Linked DNA regions of Homo sapiens. The protein of the gene in region 1 interacts with the protein of each later gene in a pairwise test. Each region holds a gene or a part of one and is shown in the gene's direction. Other genes may lie near its edges. The genes, in order: RHOQ, BANP and MORN4.

Evidence for each region.
Region 2: the proteins of RHOQ (region 1) and BANP interact in binary tests that used the Homo sapiens proteins (3 or more experiments, as listed by UniProt).
Region 3: the proteins of RHOQ (region 1) and MORN4 interact in binary tests that used the Homo sapiens proteins (3 or more experiments, as listed by UniProt).

Annotation. Positions count from the first base shown.
Region 1 is NC_000002.12:46,548,917-46,552,565, forward strand, and holds part of RHOQ (rho-related GTP-binding protein RhoQ), read left to right. Parts: intron 1-3,649. UniProt on the Homo sapiens protein: Plasma membrane-associated small GTPase which cycles between an active GTP-bound and an inactive GDP-bound state. In active state binds to a variety of effector proteins to regulate cellular responses. Involved in epithelial cell polarization processes.
Region 2 is NC_000016.10:88,034,903-88,038,551, forward strand, and holds part of BANP (protein BANP), read left to right. Parts: intron 1-420; coding exon 421-492; intron 493-3,070; coding exon 3,071-3,109; intron 3,110-3,649. UniProt on the Homo sapiens protein: Controls V(D)J recombination during T-cell development by repressing T-cell receptor (TCR) beta enhancer function. Binds to scaffold/matrix attachment region beta (S/MARbeta), an ATC-rich DNA sequence located upstream of the TCR beta enhancer.
Region 3 is NC_000010.11:97,623,475-97,627,123, reverse strand, and holds part of MORN4 (MORN repeat-containing protein 4), read left to right. Parts: intron 1-3,649. UniProt on the Homo sapiens protein: Plays a role in promoting axonal degeneration following neuronal injury by toxic insult or trauma.

The DNA of each region.
Region 1 (3,649 bases):
GAATGCCCTGTGTTCCCCTCCTTGGGACTCTGATGTGGGTTTGGGTTATGCCAGCTTAGACTGTGGGCTGGCAGGCAGGGACTTTAGGGTGGGGGCAGTCCCCACCAGCTCTCGTTGGTCTACAATTATGCCTCATAATCGGGCACATAATCTGTGCCCCATCCCCATCCTGGACCTTTGATCTGTTTGGCTTCTCCACTTCCATCATGATTCTCCTGAGGTTTGGTGACATTCCCACGCTTTGAACGACAGCTTCCCCGCAGGTATCTCAAGCATGAGTGTTACAGGTGTGCTGAGATGCCAAGCTCTCATCTCTGAGGGGCCGGGGGAGTGACAGCCTAAGGGGGTTGAGCATGTATTGTCAGTTGCTGTGGGTGCTGTGATGTGAAAAAGGTGGGAAGCATTGCTTTAAGCCCCTCGGGGTCAGAGGCCCCATGGAGAATTGGGCTTTTGCGGTTTTGTTGTGCAGTTTGGGGTTTCAAGAGATTAGATCTAATGGTATGAAAACAAAGCCAACAAAGTAGCTCTCCACGGGGGTGTCCGTTTCCAGAAAGAGCACATGTGTTGGCAGCTGTGGGTGCTACAGAGGCCTCAGACACAACAGCAATGCTTCAGCAGGAGAGGGACGCAGTTACAAAGAAACAAGATGGAAGACCATGTGTGGCTCTTAAAAATTAAAATTCCTGATTCTCAGCTGTATTTCCTTTCTCTCTGACAGGCTTGGCTTTGCCCTAATTTGGCACACTTGGGTCAGAGAGCAGCTTTCCTTGCCCTCAGCAATTTGTCATTCCTCTTTTGGTTTCTGAGCACAGCTGCTTTGCATGTACGGAGGCTGGGCTGTCTGAGCTCTCAGGGGTCCCCCGGCTCCCTGGGTAGAACGCTCTCCTGCCCAGTGCCGGCCAGGACCTCCTGGATGCGTTCTTGCTCTCTTCAAGAACAGTGTCTTTCTCTACCATGTTGCAGTGCTCAGCCCAGTGCCTGCTACCTTGTAGGCATGCAACAAATACATCTTAAGGGGATTCATGGCCAGGCAGGGTGGCATGTTCTTGTCTGTAATCTCAGTACTTTGGGAGGCCAAGGCTGGAGGATCATTTGAGGTCAGGAGTTCAAGACGAGCCTGGACAACACAACAAGACCCCCAATTCTACTAAATTTTTTTTTTTAATTAGCCAGATGTGGTAATGCATGCCTCTGTAGTCCCAGCTACTCAGGAGGCTGAGGTGGGAGGATCACTTGAGTGCAGGAATTCAAAGCTGCAGTGAGCTATAATACAAGGCTTCATTGCACTCCAGCCTAGGCATTAGAGCGAGACCGTGTTTATTTAAAAAAAAAAAAAAAGAATTGATTCTCATTTGACTGTCAGCTTGTTTCTGCTAAAAGGTTAACCAAGGACTAAAGTCATAGCTGCTAAATAATAGCATCAGCACAACCCCTTTTCCAGGAAAGCTTCACTAATACAGTAGAAGTCTTTAAGGTTCAAAGGAGAAACAGGCACATAGGTATGGGGCAGGCCATCAGTTTTGTCTTTACACAGGCCCAGGGGCCTTAGTGATCACCAGTGGGTCTGTCTGTCCCCCAACACTCTGTCTCAGACTCCGGCCTTTGCATGTTTCCTGAGACCTCTTGCTCCCAGATCCCCTGAGGAGGAGACAGGTTGGCAGTGGAAAGAGTGTGGGTTTTGGAGCCTCCAGATGAACTTCGAATCCTAGTTCTACCTCTTTGTAGCTGTGAGACATCGGCCAGCCGGCTCACTTCTGTGAGCCTCTCTTCCTTCTGTGTGAAGTGTGGAGATAATTTATACCCTGCAGCATAGCTGTAAGGATTAGAAATGATGTATGTCGTTACCCTGTAGGGCTTGGTGCTGAGAGTGCGGGCCCAGGCTAGCTCTGGGGGCTTCACACTGGCTCAGTTCGGTTGGTGTTGATTCAATGCCTGGTGTGTGTTCCCACCTTCCACAGGAGAAGGTGGGGGATCGGGCCACAGAAAGGTCCACTACACAACTGGGCAAGTTCATCGTGTGAAATTGAGTGCTGCAGGGTCCCACACAGGAAGAGGTGACAGGGAGGAGCTTTTTGGAAGATCTAGGCTTGCAGGAAGAGATGGGGGCCAGTAGAGTACTGGTTGCCAGTGTGGACCCCCACACTGGACTCCCAGGGCCCAACTTCAGCTCTGCCACTTCCCAGCAAGGGGCTTAACCTTCGGAAACCTGTTTCCTTATCTGTCAGATGGAGATTATGATAGTACCTCCTTGTGGGGTTGTTAGATATGTTGGAGCTTCCCAGCTCCCAGATAAGGGATTTCCTCAGCCCTCAGGGCAGCTGGGTAGGGCCTGGGACAAGCCATGGCTCAGGTTGTCCTAGCTTGAGCAGTCTCACCTCAGGCATGCAGCAGTGGCTCCTCTACTCCACCCGATGTGTGCTGAACACATCATCTCATTTTCTCTGTGTGCCATGAGGTGAAGATTTGGGAAGCATTGACCTAAATGAGTTCCAGCAGGCAGAGGGGTGTGGAGAGCTCATATTCTGAGTGGGAAGAATAGTGTAGGGAGGAACGGCAGAGGGGGTGACCCCAAAGCGTCTTTTTATGGACCCCAGATCCCTGCTATCAGTGTCAACATGTGGAGCAGGGTTGATAACTAAATTATGGAGTTTTTCACCTGGTGACTGACAACTTGGTAATTAAAGAGATATTAATCTGGTGCTGTGTTGCTGGTTGATTTTAATAGAAAGAAAAGAATGTGGGGAAAGGGGTCTTTATTGCTGTCTCTGTTCCTTTTTGAGTGAATGGTGAGAGCACTGAAGCAGCCGCCTCTCCAGATCCCTAGATTTTCCTGCTCTACTCAGGCTCAGGGTAGACTGAGGGGCTTAAAAGTGGCAGGCTCATCATCAAATGACATTTTTACAGCACATAAAGCATGTCGCACCTGGTACCGCCTTGAGTTCCCTCACCTGCTCTGTGAGTAAAGGAAGCCAGTGGTGGCTGTCTCATTTTGCAGATCTGGGGAGGTTAAATGACTCGCTCCAGGCCACACGGTTGGTAAAAGGCAAAGCCGAGATCACCAGGCAGGCTGTCGGACTTTAAGCCCTGGGTTCTTGATGTTAAGTCACTCTCCCTAATCATCTGGCCCATGTTAAATGCCTCTTTTATCACATGCACTGTTGTTCAGCGTTTCATGTAAAAGGTACATTCCAAGCGTATCGCTTTTCTAGCTAGAAGAGATGGTGGAACATTGTGTATAGGTGGAACACGTAGGGACGGCTGCTAAAACGGCTCCTACAAAGACTTCTGCCCCACGTGACGTTACGGGTGTTTTGTCACTTTGTCCCTAAACCACCATGCTTCCTCAAAAAGGAGCAGGCCCGAGGTGGCGCTGATGGCCCCATTGCTCAAGTACGTGTGGAAGAAGCTCATGCCATTTGCCTAAAGCTGTGGCCCCTTCCCAGAAGAGAGGGACAGGGAAATGCTGTTTGGGGGGCTGCCAGGCGGGCCAGCTTTAGCCTGCAAATGACGGGTGTCGTTTGTGTCCCATGGGGGCTACCTCAGGCCTTTCCTTTCTCCCTTCAAGGATTTTCTTATTCAGGGGAAGCCTACCTCTGCAAAACTGTTTGTCCCTCCTTCATCTGAATATTCTCTAAATATGGCGCAAAAC
Region 2 (3,649 bases), on another chromosome or scaffold:
AAACAATTTGTAAGTTTCAGATTACATACTCTTCTGAGTAGTAGCATGATGAAGTCTGGTCGTCCTGCTCTGTCCAGCCCGGGACGTGAGTCGTTCCTTTGTCCAGCATGTCCAAGCTGTGTGGCACATATGGGCGGGAAAAAGCATAGCATATATGGGGTTCAGCACCATCCACAGTTTCTGGCGTCCACGTGGTGGGGGTAGGGGGTGCTTCTTGAAACCCTCATGGATGAGGGGGACTACTGTGAACCAAAAGCTTAATTTAAAGAAGTGACCACAGACTATATTGCACTATTCAGGATTTAGTTATCTTTTTGAATTGTAAACAGATAATCAAGAACAAACATTCCGGAAGATGTTTCTTGTTTCCTTTGCTTTTGATTTTCTTCTGATGCTTCTTGGTGTCTTTTCTTGCTGCGGATCCCACAGGGACACCTCCACATCGCCCAGGTGCCGCAGGGGGAGCAAGTCCAGATCACGCAGGACAGCGAGGTGAGTCAGCTCTCGCTGCAGCACTGTCCCTGCAGGCACCGTGCCCACATGCTCCCGACCTTCATCGGTGTCACAGTGCGAGGGCAGCAGGGAGCCCCCAGGACAGGGAACGTGGGCAAGGGCTGCAGGACTCCGCTTCCAGGGTGCACATAGCGGGCCTGCAGTCTCTGTGGCCTCTCTGCCTCCCCCTCCTGTCCGTTGGTCTCCACAGCTTCTGGTCTGTCTTGGTAAAGATCTCCTGGGTAGATGTTTCTACTGCTGGCTGGAAGTGCCCTCTGAGTACCCTTCTCTCCCTGTCTGGCCCTGCCCTTCCTGCCAGGGGAGGCCCCCAGTGTGGCCGAGATGGGGTCTGCCCCTGCGTAGGTGACCTGACATACCCCCTCACCTGCCATGTGGCCCCAGCTTCCTAGTGGCCTCTACGGGATTAGTGCCGATTTCATGGGATGGTGGGGAATCCCACAAGGTGATGCTGCCAGTCCTGAGAGCTGCTCATAGCCCTTGACGCACCTGCTGGGTCTGTGATTGTCTCAGTTTCTGGAGCTCTACCCGGCCACGCACTCAGAAGTGCGGGCTCAGCTGCTGTTGGGGTCTGGAATGTGAAGGCGGCAGTGACAGTCTGAGTTCTTGGAAAGCCGAGGCCAGCCTGTTGCGATGCTCCATGTTTGCATGCCAGAGCAGGACTGTCTCCCGGGTGACCGTCCTTCGACTCTGGGCTGTTTCCTGCAGCACAGGCAGCAGCAGGCACAGGGCACTAAGCAGCACACACGTGTTGTACTCAGTGACCGTGGTGCGCTCTGGGGGATGAGGAACATGGCTGTTTCTAGGTCGTGACAATGGCACCAGCTTTGTGTTTGGTGCATAGTAGTGTGTCGCTGCAAAGATCTCAGGCTTCCCCACACACACCAGCAGCAGAGACTAGGAAGCCCGGGTGCTGAGGTCAAGGGGACTCATGGAGATGTTGGCGTGCGAGGCCTCCTGGGAGCTCATGCTGGGTGCAGGTGCTGTGGGGGAGCAGAGGAGAGAGAAGCCCTGCCATCGGGGACTCACAGCGGGCGCAGAGCCTCCTGCCCAAGTGCCCGTGAGCAAGACTGTGGACACATGCACGCCGTGGCACGTGGAGCACCAGGGACTCGGGCGTGTCTGCTGGCAGTGGCTTTAATTTGGACACCAGCAGTTCCCGGTGGGTTATCCTGAGAGGGGAGCACATGCGTAAGGGTTCTGAGGGCGGAATGAGGATGAGGTGAAAGGGGAGGAACGAATTCATGTGGGGGCCGTGAGCGACTGGGAATGAGTGGGCTCATCCACACAGCGACATGACCAGGTCACTAAGAAACGTGGTCAGATGGATGGATGGAAGGAAGCAGCAGGGCGGGGAGCAGGTAGGGGACGGTCCCAGGAGGCCAGAGTGTCCAGGAAGGAGCAGGGCCTTCCCTGTTCTGTGTCTGTGGGTGGGTCAGGGACCATCTCCTTGGAGATGTCAGGAGATGCGCCTGTCAGCTCAGCGAGGTCAGGTGCAGGAGTTGGGGGCCTGAGTGGCTGCGAGGTGCAGGATCCCAGCAGCACCTTCCAGTGCAGGAGCTGCCTTTGAGGGGCAGGGGAAGGTTTGCTTCTCAAGGCACAGACAGATGTGGGCTGGGAGGCTAAGCTCACTGCCAAAGAGCTCAGCCAGAGTTCTTGAATACCTGGAAGCCTATGAAGTTCGTCAGAATGCTTAATTTCCTTAGAGTCATTGAAAATGCAGGAAAATTGAAACAGCAGCAAAAGAAAAAAAACAACACACATTTGCTTTTTATAGTTTATGCTAAAAAAATCTTGACTACTCGAATTTCAATTTTTTATTATTAGTTTTATCCATCAGTTTTCAAAACTGAATCCATCTTGTATAGGTGATTGTCTTTCGTTTTCAATAGGAATTGAATGCAGTAAGTTAGAAATTGCTAATAATACTAACGATGGCTTTGTGATGAGTGACAGTATGCAGTCTCGTCACCATACATTCATACCGTGTTCATTTAAAATTATTTTGTTAAAACAGGATATCTGCAAATAAACATTTAGCAGGGTCTGACAGACAACACAGTTCCTTTTTACAACAAATGAAAATGAATTTCTAACTGGAGAGCTCTTAGTAGCTCTGTGGTTGAGTGAGTTGGTTCCTTGCGTGCAGCCCGTGACCTGGCGTGGTGATGCCGCACAGCTCAGCAAGGCGTCCCCCTTCGGGGAAGCTGGGCGACACACACATAGGACGTCTCTCTGCTACTTTCTGTACTTTTTGTGAGTCAGATTCTTTCAAAATAAAAAATGAAGTAAAAATGACATTTTCATTTGGGGTCAGGGTAGGGGAATGAGTACAATGCTTTTTGAGTTGTTTGTTCATCTTTAAAATAATAAATAGTACCTAGAAATGTCAATATTTTGTTTTGGGGCTTTTGTTGCTACTGGAGGTTGAATTTTTGCAGAACTGGGGTTTTCTTGTTATTCTCAAGTGGCCTGTGATGTGTCTTGGCGTGTTTGCCGTGTCTGAGGGTGTCTTGGTGTGTTTCTACTCATGACCGTCTCCTCCTCTCGTTCTTTGTAGGGCAACCTCCAGATCCATCACGTGGGGCAGGACGGTCAGGTGAGTGTCCCAGTCCCCATGCACATGCGGGCGTTGCGCTGCCGAGGGATGGGGTTCTCAGGGGAGGGGGTGGGACGGTCAGGTGAGTGCCCTGGTCCCCATGTACATGTGGGCATTGCGCTGCCGAGGGGTGGGGCTCTCACGGGAGGGGTGGGACGGTCATTGTGGGCATTGCGCTGCCGAGGGGTGGGGCTCTCATGGGAAGGGGGCGGATGGTCAGGTGAGTGCCACAGTCCCCCTCTCACATACAGGCCATGGTGCTGCCAAGGAATGGGGGCTCTCGCGGGAGGGAGCGAGGGTGCAAAGGCCTCTCAGTGTGAGCCCCAGAGCAGGACTGGCTTTCCTCACCATGACAATGCACAGGCCTGGAAGGGGGGAGGGCAGGGCTTGGGGGTTACATTTGCTGCTCCGTAGGATTTCAGCAGCTTTTGCGCTATGGCGGAAACGTGCCCTCCCACCCCCGCCACCCCACCCCCTTCAGATGGTTATTTTCTGCACACGCATGCGTATGTTGATGGTGGTCATGTTTGCACAGATAAC
Region 3 (3,649 bases), on another chromosome or scaffold:
CTGCTGAAGCTACTCAGCAAAGTCACCAGCACCAGTCTCCATTAAACAAACAAACAAACAAAAATCAGGCCGGGCACAGTGACTCATGCCTGTAATCCCAGCACTTTGGGAGGCCAAGGCGGGAGGATCACCTGAGGTCAGGAGTTCAAGACCAGCCTGGCCAACATGGTAAAACCCTGTCTCTACTGAAAATACAAAATTAGCTGGGCGTGGTGGCAGGGGCCTGTAATCCCAGCTACTTGGGAGGCTGGGGCAAGAGAATCGCTTGAACCTGGGAGGCAGAGGTTACAGTGAGCTGAGACTGCACCATTGCACTCCAGCCTGGGCCACAGGAATGAAACTCTGTCTAAAAAAAAAAAAAAAAAAAAATCTGGGCACAGTGGCTCATGCCTGTAATCCCAGCACTTTGGAAGGCTGAGATGGGTGGCTCACCTGAGGTCAGGAGTTCGAGACCAGCCTGACCAACATGGTGAAGCCCTGTCTCTACTAAAAATACAAAAATTAGCCAGCCATGGTGACGGTCACCTGAAATCCCAGCTATTCGAGAGGCTGAGGCAGGAGAATTACTTGAACTCGGGAGGTGGAGGTTGCAGTGAGCCGACATTGCACCACTGCACTCCAGTCTGGGCCACAGAGCAAGACTCCGTTTCAAGAAAAAAAAAAAAAGAGAGAGAACAAGCATCAGAACATATTATGATTATGATTATGATTATGATTATGATTATGATTATTATTATTATTATTTTTGAGTCAGAGTCTCGCTCTGTCACCCAGGCTGGAGACCAGTGGCATGATCTTGGCTCACTGCAACCTCCACCTCCCAGATTCAAGTGATTCTCCTGTCTCAGCCTCTCAAGTAGCTGGGACTACAGGCATGTGCCACCACGCCTGGCTAATTTTTGTGTTTTTAGTAAAGACAGGGCTTCACCATGTTGGCCAGGCTGGTCTCGAACTCCTGACCTCAGGTGATCCATCTTAGCCTCCCAAAGTGCTGGGATTACAGGCGTGAGCCACTGTGCCCAGCCCGCTTGTTCTCTTTAAAAAAAAAAAAAAAAAAGGCATGAGGCTGGGTGTGGTGGCTCATGCTTATAATCCTAGCACTTTCGGAGGCCAAGGCCAGAGATTGCTTGAGGCTAGGAGTTTGAGATTAGCCTGGGCAACATAGTGGGACACGGTCTCTACAAAAAAGTTAGTTGGGCATGGTGGTGTGTGCCTATAGTCCTAGCTACTTGGGAGGCTGGGGCAGAAGGGTTGCTTGAGCCCACAAGTTCAGGGTTGCAGTGAGTTATGATCAAGCGATTGCACACCAGCATGGGCAACAGAGCGACACACTGTCTCCTTAAAAAACAAAAAATCGTTATGACATGAGGCCAAAATAAAAATATCCTGTAGGATGTTGATAAAGAGTGGATGGGTGGCAACTATAGTTTGTTTTTCCTCTACTTAGTATTCAGCTCTTTAGTCAAAATTGCTGAGATTTTCTTTTTCAAAGTGTTGTTTGAATTACATTGGTAGCAGTTTTTACTGAGGAAAGACCTAGAGAAGTTTTCATTACAGTAAGTATATGTGTGAGTTTAAGTGTAAAACTTTGAAAGAGGAAAGAAACTAACATTTAGTGGACAGGCCCTAGCAGTGTTCTAGGTACTTACGTGTGTGTCATTTTCTTTCTTTTATTTTTCTTTTCTGTCACCCACTGACTCTCAGATATTTAATTTAATCCACCTGCCAACTATGTGAAATACATATCTTATCTCCACTTTACAGATGAGGAGACTGAGATTTAGAGATACTTAAATACCTTGCCCATAATTATACAGTGAACTCATATTTGAACTCAAGTCCTCCTGTGCTCAGAGTCTACAACACCACCATATTATCCTGGGAGGCCAGATAGGATAGTATGGTATAAGTTAGCAAGTTACTGTAAGAACTTGTGCCAGCAAGGCCAGCTGTCAGAGCTCTGATTCTAACTTTCACGTGTTAGTTTCCACATGTATGACCTTAGTTAATTTACTTATCCTCTCTGCACCTTAGTTTCCTCATCCCTAAAGTGGAAATAATAATAATACCCACCCCAAAAAGTTGTTGTGAGATGAAATTAGATAATATATTTTAAAAACACTGATGCTCATGCCGTGTGCGGTGACTCACGCCTGTATTCTTAGCACTTTGGGAGGCCGCGGCAGGTGGATCACCTGAGGTCAGGATCACCTGAGGTCACCTGACCAACATGGTGAAACCCCATCTCTACTGAAAATACAAAATTAGCCAGGCGTGGTGGCGCATGCCTGTAATCCCAGCTACTTGGGAGGCTGAGGCGGAGGTTGGAGTGAGCAAAGATCGCGCCATTGCACTCCAGCCTGGGGAAGAATAACAGTGAAACTCCGTCTCAAAAACAAAACAAAACAAAAAACACTGATGCTCACACCAGTAATCCCAGCTACTTGGGAAGCTGATGAGGAAGAATCACTTGAGGCCAGGAGTTCGGGACCAGTCTAGGCACCATAGCGATACCCATCTCAACAAAAAATTTGAAAAGTAGCTGGGTGTGTTGGCACACACCTCTAGTCCCAGCTACTGGAGAGGATGAAGCGGGAGGATCACTTTAGCCCAGAAGTTTGAGACTGCAGTGAGCTCTAATCACAATCACACTACTGCATTCCAGGCTGGGTAACTGAGTGAGACCCCATCTCTTAAAACAAAACAAATAAACAACACTGATGGAACACAGTAAGAGGTCAGTAAATGTTAGCTTCTGTTATAAAGGTATTTCAGACAGCTTCTCTGGGGTTAGTGCAATTGATTATTAGAGAGGGTTGTGCCACCTGAATTGAAATATAAATAATCTAGCACTGTCCACCATGACAATGTGGAGAAAGCAAATTTAACATATGGGTTGTTTTAGTTGAACATTTAAAGCATCACTTTTGCATAAAATATACCAGACCCCTTTTGTGCTATGAAACTATGGAACCCACTCTTTGGAACTCCATCTTGACTGGATGAGGTTTTGGCTTCCCTGGGACTTGAAGGAAAAGGAAGCTAGCTGTTGGCGCCAGGCCCCCGAGATTTAAGAATCCCATCTTGCGGCCAGGCACGGTGGCTCATGCCTGTAATCCCAGCACTTTGGGAGGCCAAGGCGGGCGGATCACGAGGTCAGGAGATTGAGACCATCCTGGCTAACACGGTGAAACTCCATCTCTACTAAAAAATACAAAAAGTTAGTGGGGCGTCGTGGTGGGCACCTGTAGTCCCAGCTACTCGGGAGGCTGAGGCAGGAGAATGGCATGAACCCGGGAGGCAGAGCTTGCAGTCAGCCGAGATCATGCCACTGCACTCCAGCCTGGGCAACAGAGTGAGACTCTGTCTCAAAAAAAGAAAAAAAAAAAAAAAGAATCCCGTCTTGTTTTGAGCTGGGAGCAGTGGCATGCACCTGTAGTTCCAGCTACTCAGAAGTCTAAGAGGGGATTGGAGGATCTCTTGAACCTAGGAGTTCAAGTCCAGCCTGGGTAACATAATGAGACCCTGTCTCTAAAAGAAAAAAGAATTCTTTCCTGTTTCTCCACCAGGTCTGGCCCCAGTACTCTGAGGAGAATGTGTCCTTGTCCTGTTGGAACTCAGTCAGATGCCTGAGGGTCAGACTCTAGGT